2 separate regions of the Homo sapiens genome follow, and region 1 is linked to region 2. A link means that fine-mapping ties the variant in region 2 to the expression of a gene that starts in the linked region. Tissue or cell type: whole blood. Region 2 holds a variant in brackets; the other region holds the start of a gene. All regions are shown on one strand. Distances are between the middles of the regions.

What was found. PIP is the estimated chance that this variant, and not a neighbour inherited with it, causes the effect.
Region 1: it holds the start of SARDH, and the variant in region 2 is fine-mapped to the expression of SARDH in whole blood (TOPMed, PIP above 0.99).

Annotation. Positions count from the first base shown.
Region 1 is chr9:133,736,286-133,741,645 of GRCh38, reverse strand. It overlaps SARDH (sarcosine dehydrogenase), which reads left to right and starts at 3,294. Exons shown (of 21, transcript NM_001134707.2): 1 at 3,294-3,392.
Region 2 is chr9:133,701,008-133,706,367 of GRCh38, reverse strand. It overlaps SARDH (sarcosine dehydrogenase), which reads left to right. Exons shown (of 21, transcript NM_001134707.2): 12 at 1,337-1,420; 13 at 3,339-3,452. Among named protein-coding and RNA genes, the nearest start is that of SARDH, 35 kb to the left of the region's middle. The variant A/G (reference allele first, on the strand shown) is at 2,613.

The DNA.
Region 1 (5,360 bases), 35 kb before region 2:
ACTTTGACAGAGGATAGAAAACATTCTGTCTTCATGAAATCACGGGGATATTCAGTGGTAGTTTTCTTTTTCAGGTTCTTATTGAAAAAATAAAATCTTGGCAGTGTAAATTCAGCCCTTGAAAATTGTTCTGGAAATTTCCCTGGCCCATGAATCACCTGGGTCTGGCACCTGTTGGCTGTGTTCTCCCTCAGTTTTCCCATCTCCACGATGGGTAGCAGTTGTTGCTGTCTCATTTGAGATGACACGTGTGAAGCCTTTAGCACGCTGCCTGACTCCCAGGAGGCCCTCAGAGGTGACTGGGGCACTGCCTTCCTCCTGGTCAGTGGTGATGTTGGCTCTTATAGTTTGGGTTGGGATGCTGTTGCTCATGTCCTCTTTCACAGGGCTGCACGCAGAGCTCGGTGGAGGAGCCTCCTCCCCCAACGCCTCCGCTTCTTCCTCCCTGGACTTCTGCCCCGTCAGAGGGCAGCCTGCAGGCACCTCTCTCTGTCCTGGAAGCCTGGCCAGCAAGTCGGGGCCAAGGGCTGGTGGGGGCCTGCAGAGAGGGCCAGCCTGAGCCAGAGGAAGAGTCTTGGGGTTGGCTCAGGTATGTCCAGGCCATGAGGGCAGAGGAACAAGTCTACCACAGTCCCCACTGGAGCGGTGGCGGGGAGGCTGGGGAGGGCAGTGAACCTGGAGGCAGCCCCTCACTCCTGAATGTAGAGTCAACTGTGACTTTGATTTGCACCACAGTTTTCTTCAGAGTGCACTAAACATAGAGTCATACTCATTTTACGAGACCAGCATTACCCTGATACCAAAGCCAGATAACATTACAAGAAAGAAAATTATAGACCGATATCCTTGATGAACATAGATGCAACAATCCTCTCAAAATATTAGCAAACCAGCTGGGCGCGGTGGCTCACACCTGTAATCCTAACGCTTTGGGAGGACGAGGTGGGGGGATCACTTAAGGTCAGGAGTTCGAAACCAGCTTGGCCATTCATGGTCAAACCCCGTCTCTACTAAAAATACAAAAAATTAGCTGGGCACGGTGGTGCGTGCCTGTAATCCCAGCTACTTGGGAGGCTGAGGGAGGAGAATCGCTTGAACCGGGAAGGCGGAGGTTGCAGTGAGCCGAGATCGTGCCACCGCACTCCAGCATGGGCGACAGAGCAAGACTCCGTCTAAAAAAAAAAAAAATTAGCAAACCAAATTCAACAGCACATTAAAAAGATCATGCACCGTGATCAAGTAGATTTTATCCCTGGTGGGGTGACTTCTTTGAGGTGGCAGCCCCTCTGTTGGTGTGATCTAGAGCAGGACTGAAGGAAATTTACTCAGGGAAATTTACAAGGCTTCTGTGAAACTGACATGGCAGGGCTTCCAGCCTCCTGTTCCAAGATGGGAAAACTAAGTCTCAGCAAAGGGAGAGGTGATAAGACCAGCCCGAGATCGTACAGGACCCTGTCTTGGCCTCCTTGTCCGGAGCCTGGCCTCTCCAGAGCTGTGACTACTAGTCCCTGGGGGGAGACAGCCTTTCCACCTCTCCCAGACCGGAGCTGGGTGCTAACAGGCCCTGCCGGATGAAAATCCTACGATACTAACAGACAGCTAACAGGCCGGGACCGGCCCCCAGCCACCACCCCTTGTCCAAAGTGCAGGTTCATTGTGCTGCCCTCTTGGCTTGTAACAGTTTTGCAACAGTTGCAACTTGTCTTTGAGTGCAGGGACAGGAGAAGTGTGGGCTACCCGGCCACTGCCCTGGAGCTGTGGTGACTGCTGCGTTTTTCTCCCATGCACTTGCACGTCCAGGACTCCTGGGAGAACTTGGGCCACACTCCTTCCTTGCCCTCTTGAGCTCATTCGTCACCCTGTTGGGTGAGCACAGCCCTAGCTCAGGCCACTGGGCAAGCCACACCATCCAAAGAGGAGGTCCTCTGCCCCAGGACCCCCACACCACCCCAGGTAAGCCTCAAACTGGCGGGGCCAGCTTTCCACTGGGCAGCCAGGGGCCTAAGCCAGTGGGCCCTTTGCCTTTGAGGCAGGGACTGAGAATGGTGTCAGCACGTGGTCAGGCCCAGAGCCCAGGCCCCCTCCTCTAAGAGGTCCTCCTGGATTCCCTGCTGGAAGGAAGCCAGCCTTGTGGTGTCGTGTCTCTCCCTGGATCTGTCTGCTTCGTGGACCCTGAGCCCCTCGAGGGCAGGGGCTGGGTCTTAGATGTCACTATAGGTTTCCCAGCAGTGCTTTGTACACATTGGGCATTCAGTAAATGTAGAGGATAGACAAGCTGGCAACAAGACAGTCGGACATCCTCGGTGTGAATAAGAACACAATGATTTGATTGGTATTAATTACAGCAGTTTACTATACGATCGCTTCCGGTATTGGCAGCTGGCATCATTACAATATTAACAGACTGCCATTGAAATGCCCCGTCTTTGATCCAGCGCGAGGAGGAGATGTGACTTTCCATCAGCACCTGTTCTGATTCTTTGGGCATCCAGAGGTGTATTCTTTCTGGGTTTCCTCCACACCCCTCCTCTGGGTGTCTACTTCTGTCTGGGAAGGGGTAACTTGCCCCAGCCCAGAGTCAGGCTGCAGCATCCGGTCTGCCTCCTCCACCAGCTTGCTGTGTGGCCCCCTCCCTGGGCACTGCTGTCCCCAACAGTCAATGGAGGCTGGAATCCCTGCCCTGGGGGCTACGTGCTGTGCAGTAGCCAGTGGCTTGGGGGCATCTCCCCAAACACCAGAGGGGTCTGGGAGCTCGGGAAAGCAGGACGCAGACAGACCAGGAGACCCTGTCCCTGGGAAGCTGACCCAGGCCTTCTCACTCGCCTCTGAAGGCAGTGAGCATCCTGTCCCTGGGGGTGAGCAAACTGGGGCATGTGCTGAGATGACCTCACCAAAGGAGCCTCCCTGCAGTGGACGGGCCCCTGGCCCAAGCTGCTGCTGACCCCACCTTTCCTGCCCACCCTGCCTGTGCATAGCTCCTTCTGGGCGCGGGGAGCTCGGGCGGCTCCAGCAGGCAGGTGGTGCCTGGGTCTACTGCAGCAACCCTGAGGCGCCTGTTTCAGAGACGAGGAAATGAGGGTTGGAGCGGAAGGGTGACTGCCAGGTCGCCTACGGGTAATGGGGCATGGGGTTCACAACCCTGCTCTGCCGCCCTCAGAGGGAGCTGCCCACAGGGCTGGCCTAGAAGCCCCAACTAAGCTGGCCTAGAAGCCGCAGTGGTGGGCGGTACGCTCCGCCCAGATCCTGGGCGGAGACATGGGGCTGGCAGCGAGGGTGGGGGGCGGGGGAGGCCTGGAGTTCCGGCCAGGCCACTGCTTGGGAAGCAAGAAGGTGAAGGCACCTCTGCTGGGCCAAGCACTCTTAGGGCCGAGGGGCACTGCAGCTGACAAGAGGTACTTGGAGGTACACCCCCAGGGAGGGACGAGGCTGGGGCCTCCCCTATGTGGGCGGGGCTGGGCCTGGTCAGATCTGGCTGGGATCTCCCTCTGCCTCTGGCTGCAGGGACCATCCAGCTGCATGAGCAGGACCAGGGTTCACCATATGGGCAGCTGCCTCCCCGCCCCCTGCCGCTCCTCCCCACAAGTCTGCCTACCCTCACCAGGCGAAGGTGCCAGGCGCTCTCCTCGCTTGACCCCCACCACCCCCTGAGCCTGGGAGGAGGAGGGCGTTCCTGGGTCCTCTGCTTTGCAGTGAGGTTAAGTTGTTGCTCGAGGCCCCAGTCCTGTGACAAAACCCCCACCCATCTGTCTGATCCCAAGCCCAGGGCTGTCCTCAGCCCTCACTCCTGGGAAGCTGACTCAGGTACGAGACAGAGTTGGAGGGGGCAAGAGAGTGGGTTAATGTGGAGGCAGCTGTTTCCAGGGAGGTGGCAGGCAGGAGGGGCTCTGGGCTGTCCCCGCTGGGGCCGCTGCCAGCCCCCAGTCTGACAGTCAGAAGAGCCCTGACTGACCAGGCAGGTGGTGAAGGGGCACGTGGCAGCCTCCGGCGCCAGCAGCTGTCGCTTTTTGGGCACAGTCGGAAGGAGGAGGGAGGCTTTTGCCCACAGCTGACCAGGTGTGCTGTGCCATGCGGCACCGTGGTGGGTGGTGGGTGGTGGGGTGGGGGTGTTCAGCCTTGGAGGGCCTTCCTCGGTGCCACTCAAGCTGGCTTTCCCCTGGTGGGGCACCACTTTTGGGGGCTCCTGGAAGACTGTGGACCTTCAAGGACTGAAGGTATGTACAGACACATGCAGGAGGCATGCCTCCTTGTCCGGGGCCACCTCTGCAGGCAGGAGCCAGGCGGGCTGACACACTGAGGGCTGAGAGGCTGAGGACAAGCTCCAACACCTCCTCACTCCCCTACGCCGCTGCAATCAGACTCCCTGCTCCCTCCCTTGGGATGGGGCACTGGGGCAGGAGATGGGGGGCAGCCCTGACCAGCCTGAGAGCTGGGATCCCCCTCACATCCCCCACTGTGCCTAGGACAGGGTTCTGGGCTTCGTCAGGGCTTGGGCAGTGCCCACAGTTCAGGTGGGACAGAGTGTGGCAGTGGGTCCTGAGTCCCCCTGGGATGGTCAGAAGAGGGGGCAGGAGAGAGTCCCTGGCACTGCCACATGGAGGCCCTATGACCCTGGTCACCTCAGGGAGCCTCTCCGTGTGTCAGACTCCCCCGCTGTGAAGTAGAGACATTATCATGTGTCTATAGGTGTTCAATGAGAGTGAACGAACGTGCATAGCTATGGTCCACTCTTGAAAAAGGATGCTGACTTTCTTAGATAATTATATCAGTCATTCATACTGACGTAGGTGGCACAGCACTTCACATCTTGGATCACAGCCACATCCCTTTCACTTTTCCTGCAGATCCCAGAAAAGGGCAGTGGAGGTCCACACTGGGCAGGACACCACCCCACCCTTCCATTGAGGGCTGTTGTGAGACCTCCGTTCTTAACTTCTTAGTTTAAAGAATTTAGGCTGGGCACAGTGGCTCATGCCTGTAATCCCAGCACTTTGGGAGGCCGAGGCAGGCGGATCACCTGAGGTCAGGAGTTCGAGACCAGCCTGGCCAACATGGTGAAACCCTGTCTCTACTAAAGATACAAAAATTAGCCAGGCATGGTGGCATGCACCTATAATCCCAGCTACTCGAGAGGCTGAGGTGGGAGAATCGCTTGAACCCAGGAGGCAGAGGTTGCAGTGAGCCAAGATCATGCCACTGCACTCCAGCCTGGAAGACAGAGTGGGACTCTTTCTCAAAACAAACAAACAAACAAACAACAACAACAACAACAAAACAGAATTTAAACATGAGACACACAGCAAAAGAGCTGCAACATAGAGCAATTTATTGCAAAAGAAAAAGAACATTTTGAAAGTTAGGTG
Region 2 (5,360 bases):
ATACATGACCTTTTGTGTCTGGCTTCATTCCTGTAGCATGTTTTCAAGGTTCATCCTGTGATAAAATGTGTCCAAATTTCGTTGCTTTTTATGGCTGAATAATATTCCATGGTGTATGCAGACCATGCTTTGTTGATCCACTCATCAGCTGAGGGCCACGGGGGTTCTCTCCCCTGGTTAGTGGTTGCGCATAGAGCTCAGTGAACATGCGTGAACGGAATTTGTTTACAACCCCGCTCTCAGTTCTCTTGTGCATACTTGGGAGTGGAATTGCTGGGTCGTATGGTGCATCTTTCTGCTAGGGCAGCCACAGCAAAAGGCCACAAGTGGAGAGGTTTCAGCAGAACTTTTTTTTCCCCACATTTCTGGAGACTGGGAGGTCCAAGATCAAGGTGTCAGACGATGGGTTCCTGGAGAGGGCTCTCCTGGCTTGTAGTCGGCCACCTTCTCACTGTCCTCATGCAGCGGGGAGAGGGCCCTGGCGTCGCTTCCTCCTCCTATAAGGGCTCCAGCCGTATGGGATTAGGACCCACCCTGATGACCTCATTTAACCTAAAGATCCCATCTCCAAATAGAGTCACGTCAGGGTCAGGGCTTTGACATACGAATTTATGTGGGGATGTGATTCCGTCCATAGCAGATGGTAATTCTACAGATGGGGGTTCTCAGGGCCAAGGCAGATCAGGGCAGGTGGTAATTCTACAGATGATGGTTATCGGGGCCAGGGCAGATGGGGCAGGTGCTATTCTGTAGCTGGGGGTTCTCAGGATGAGGGCAGATAGGGGAAGGTGATAATTCTACAGATGGGGTTCTCAGGGTGAGGGCAGATGGGGCAGGCGGTAAGTCTATAGATGGGATTCCTGGGGCAAGAGCAGATCAGGGCAGGTGGTAATTCTATAGATGGGGGTTCTCAGGGTGAGGGCAGATGGGGCAGGTGGTAATTAATTCTATAGATGGGGGTTCTCAGGGTGAGGGCAGATGGGGCAGGTGGTAATTAATTCTATAGATGGGGGTTCTCAGGGTGAGGGCAGATGGGGCAGGTGGTAATTCTATAGATGGGGGTTCTCAGGGTGAGGGCAGATGGGGCAGGTGGTAATTCTATAGATGGGGGTTCTCAGGGTGAGGGCAGATGGGGCAGGTGGTAATTCTACACATAGGGGTTCTCAGGGTGAGGCAGTGAGGGTAGCTGCAAACACTGGGCTGGAGGCCTGGTTCCAAGAGTCAGGGCCTCCTTGCTCTCCGCACCCTTGGGTGTAAAGTGGCGGATGTGGCTCTCTGCCCTGCGCAGGGGTATCAGGCCATGCGTGACAGATGCCTGTTCCCCACTCCTGCTCAGGAACTCCTTGGACAAGGCTGCGTGTTCCAGGAGCGGCATGGCTGGGAGCGACCGGGATGGTTTCATCCCCGAGGCCCAGCTCCGGTGAGTAGTGCCTGCTGGGCTGTGCTGCTGGGAGGCCCTGCCCTGACAACCCCCTTGCCCCTCCACGTGCCCCGTCCTTGCCCCTCCGTGTGCCCCGCCTCCCCAGGTGGTTCCACTGTCGTGATCAGTTATTCTGCACACGGGAAGCCGAGCCCTGCCGACCTGCCCCCAAGGCTCAGTGCATTCTTTGTGCCGTTCACGCAATTCCCACTCCTCGTCCTCCCCACTACCCGTCCGCTGTGGCCAGGCCTTCCATGGCCTAAGTGGGAAGGGCTGTAGGCAGAGCAGAAGGGGTGTCCTGCGGTGGGGAGACAGCAAGAAGACTCCCCCAGGTTGCAGGAGGAATGGAGCGTCTCCTAATTCTGTGCATCTATTTTTGGCCACTCCGACTGTTGGTTTATGTCCGTAGGAGGGCAGGCACTGGGCAGGTTGATGCACCCAGGGTGCTCAGTTTCCCAGTGGAGGTTTCACAGTGGCCTGGACTCTGGGCGTCCTCTGGGGACTCCCAGGGACCTGGGTCCTCAGTGAGAGGAACAAAGGCAGTCCTGCTGTGAAACCTGGGACCCAGACCCTCGGGAGCAGGGGACGCGAGGCCTTAAGGCCAGCTGAGGGGTAGCATTTGATCCAGATTTACAGAAATCGAAATCCCCTTCCCGGGGCTGCGTCTCACCAGTCCCCTCTGGTGCACCCACCTTCCATCCCCATGGCAACCCACAGCCCAGGCCAGGCTCCAGAGCTCCAGGGCATCGGGAGGGGAGATGAGAGCCAGAGCTGGCTAACGGGGCCACGGCTCTGGGGTCAGAGCCTTGCAGGTCATCGTCTCTTCTCCTGCTGGCCCCTAGGGACATGCCGTCCTCATGAACCCTGCGGGGAGGAGGGGTCTGGGCAGACCCTGTCTTGAAGTGCAACCCACTGTGTTCCAGTCAGATCTGGCCCTGGAAGCCCCTCTCCCCTGTCCCTGGGCGAGGAGAGGAGAGTCAGGAACACACCCCAGGTCCCAAGATGGGCGGATTTTGCACCCCCACCCGGGAGCCAGCCTGGGTGTCCAGGACACCTTGGCAGGGCTGCAGTGGGTGGGATGTCCCTGCTGGGGAGGGGGGTACTCCATGCAGAGATGCCAGCAAAGCCTGACTCCCTTACAACCTCACACTGGCTCCCACTTGTGTGTGAAGAGGAGGTGAGGCTTGGGCGG[A/G]CGGGGCTGGCAGCCCTGGGAGGTTAAGAATTGCCCACACCTGCATTCACAGCTGTGCCGTGTCGGCAGTTAGGAGGGCAGGTGGCGGGGTGGGGGGTTGTCTGCAGGAGCAGCGGCCAGGGAGGGGCATGGGGCTGTGGGGCTGTGGGGTGTCTGATGGGGGCAGATCCCAGGGAGGCCAAGGCAGTGGCAGAAAAGCTGGACTCTGGAGCCCACGCACCTGCCTGGCTTCGTGCCACTGCCAGGTCCAGGACTTGTCTGTGCCCTTGGGCGAGATATAACTTCTCTGCGCCTCACTTTCCTCATCTGTAGAAAGGGGCACACCTGGTAGGAGTGTAAGACGCTTCCCGCAGGGGCTGGCCCAGAGCAGGAGCTGGGCCTGGGATTGCCGTGGCTCCAGGGAGCAGCCCTGGCTGAGGTCCTGGGTAACCACCTCTCCCTGTCGTTCCCCACCTTGGGTGCATCCAGCTCCTCCTCCAGCCTCCTGGGCCCTGGCTGGGCTCTCAGACCCACCAGGCAACCCTGCGGCCTCCTTTGTGCCTCTGTTTTGCCTGGACCTCATGGGGGCCCCCTGCCCGCGTCCACAACACACGGGCACTCAGTGCAGGGCTCTCCGAGGGCAGGGCCAGGCCTGACCCCATCACAGCCTCAGCGGGACCCCGCTCTGGGGAGGGAAGCGGGGAGGGGCCAAAGAGGCAGGCTGAGGACCACGTCTTTTCTTCCCAGGTCCTCGAGTACGACTACTACGGGGCTTACGGGAGCCGCGCGCACGAGGACTACGCCTACCGCAGGCTGCTGGCAGACGAGTACACCTTCGCCTTCCCGCCCCACCACGACACGGTGCGTAGCTGGGGTCCACCGTGGGGGTCCGTCCTTCTGCCTGTCCCTCAGATAAGCCATTGCGCCGGCCCTCGGCTGGCCCTGCAGGGGCTCCCCTCCCCCAGGAGTCTCTTCGGGCTCTGCATTCACGCTTTTTTCGGCTGACTCCATTTTGAGGAGGAATCATGCGTTTTCCTCTCCCCCTCCTCCCTCTGTGCCGAGATTTTGCCAGCAGCCAGGCCTGAGCGGAAGTGGTGCTGCTGGGGATGGGGTGAGGTGGGGGCGGAGGCAACGGGCTGGGGCCCGGTGGGGCTGCACCGCTCTGAGCCTCCGCCTCCCGCTCTCCGGAGCTGCGCCGAGGCTGGCATGAGACGTGGTGGGGGAAGGGGGTCCTCCCTCCTGGAAGCCAGCGCAGAGTAGATCCAGGACAAGGGGGCCGCAGGCTCCTGGGCATCAGGCCCCGTATGGGCCCCTCCAAGGGACAAGCAGAGGGAACCAGAGCCGGGAGGGCCGTGGCCTGGAGCCTGCTTGCTGTTCCTCTGGCTCCAAAGTGGGCAGGCGAGGCTGCTCACACGGGGCAGCTGGCAGCCCGTCGCCCCTGCCTGGGGACCTGGCTCCCACGTGCAGGGGGTGGAGGTGAGGAGTCTTGGGGGTCTTCTCCCCCGCAGCAGCCTGCACCACACAGGGGCGTTCTCCCCCGCAGCTGTCCGGGAAGGAGCGAGGCCAGCGTCTGCCCTGGCCTGCCCAGTCGTGTTGTAAAGTGCTCACAGGTGGAGCACAGCTGTTGTCCCCGTGCCACCCCAGGGAGACGCGTGACACCTCACTGCGAATCTGACATAGGAGCAGAGCCAAGGCCTGAGCCCAGAGTCTCAGAGCCCAGGGACAGCTTAGGAGGCATCCACGAGGGGGTTCCTTCCTGGGGCCTCTAGGCCAGTCGCAAGTCCGGCTTGGGTAGGGTCTGACCCTGCGGTCGTCCGTTGCCTTGAAGGGCCCCGCTTGGGTTCATGCTGTGCTGTCAGTGCCTTGAGACTCTTCATGGTCTTTGAGCAAGGTCCCCACTGGGTCCCGCACTGGGTTCTGTAGCCAGTTCTGAAGGGAATAAACCGTTCATTTCCACCATCTCCCCGAAAGCTTGCTCTAGTGGTGGAACATCTGTTCAAGGCGTCGGAAGAGGGGGCTCCTGCAGGAAGGAGGAGGCGTGTGTGTCATGAAGCGCCGCAGCAGCAGGGCCGGCTCAGTGCCCGAGTCCCTTGTCGCTGCCTCCCAGGGAGTGCTCGGGGCTCCGTCTGGCACCTCCGCACCCACAGCTTCTAAAGCCTGTGGGACTCTGGCCCTCGAGGATGTGGGAGCTCGGGGGAGATGCCAACTTGGCTTTGTGGCTTCATCCGGCCTCCGCAAACGCGCCTGAAGCCGTCCTAAAGCACGAAACACGTGCTTGTTCTTGGCGCTGGCAGCTTCCCCGGCCTGCTAGAGGAGCCCAGCGCGGGAGGCTGCTGAGGGTTTTGGTTGGCAGCCCCGGTGGCATCAGCAAAGGTACAGCAGAAACCGACAAAGGGGAGCCCTGTCCTGAAGGACAGTGATGCCTGGTGGGGCTGGAGAAGCCATGGAGAGCTCAGGAGGCAGATGGTCCCTGTGGTGTGCTGGTAACAGCTTAACAACCAGCTCTCTGGGGCAGAGGGGAGGAAGCTGGCTCTGTAGCACCGGCCAATTTCCCTGATGTAAATGCTTTCTCCATGGCTGATTTCAATCCAGTCCGCCAATGAGGCATCACTGAATGTGGAGCTGGGCAGGGATCTGCCTGACCAGCTGTCAGGGTCAGTGCACCCCTGCACAGCCTGGCTGGACCATAACTCTGCCACTGCCTGGCTGTGCCACCATCCCTGGCCTCCCTGAGTATGTGAGGGGTAATATGAGTTCCCTTGTGGAAAC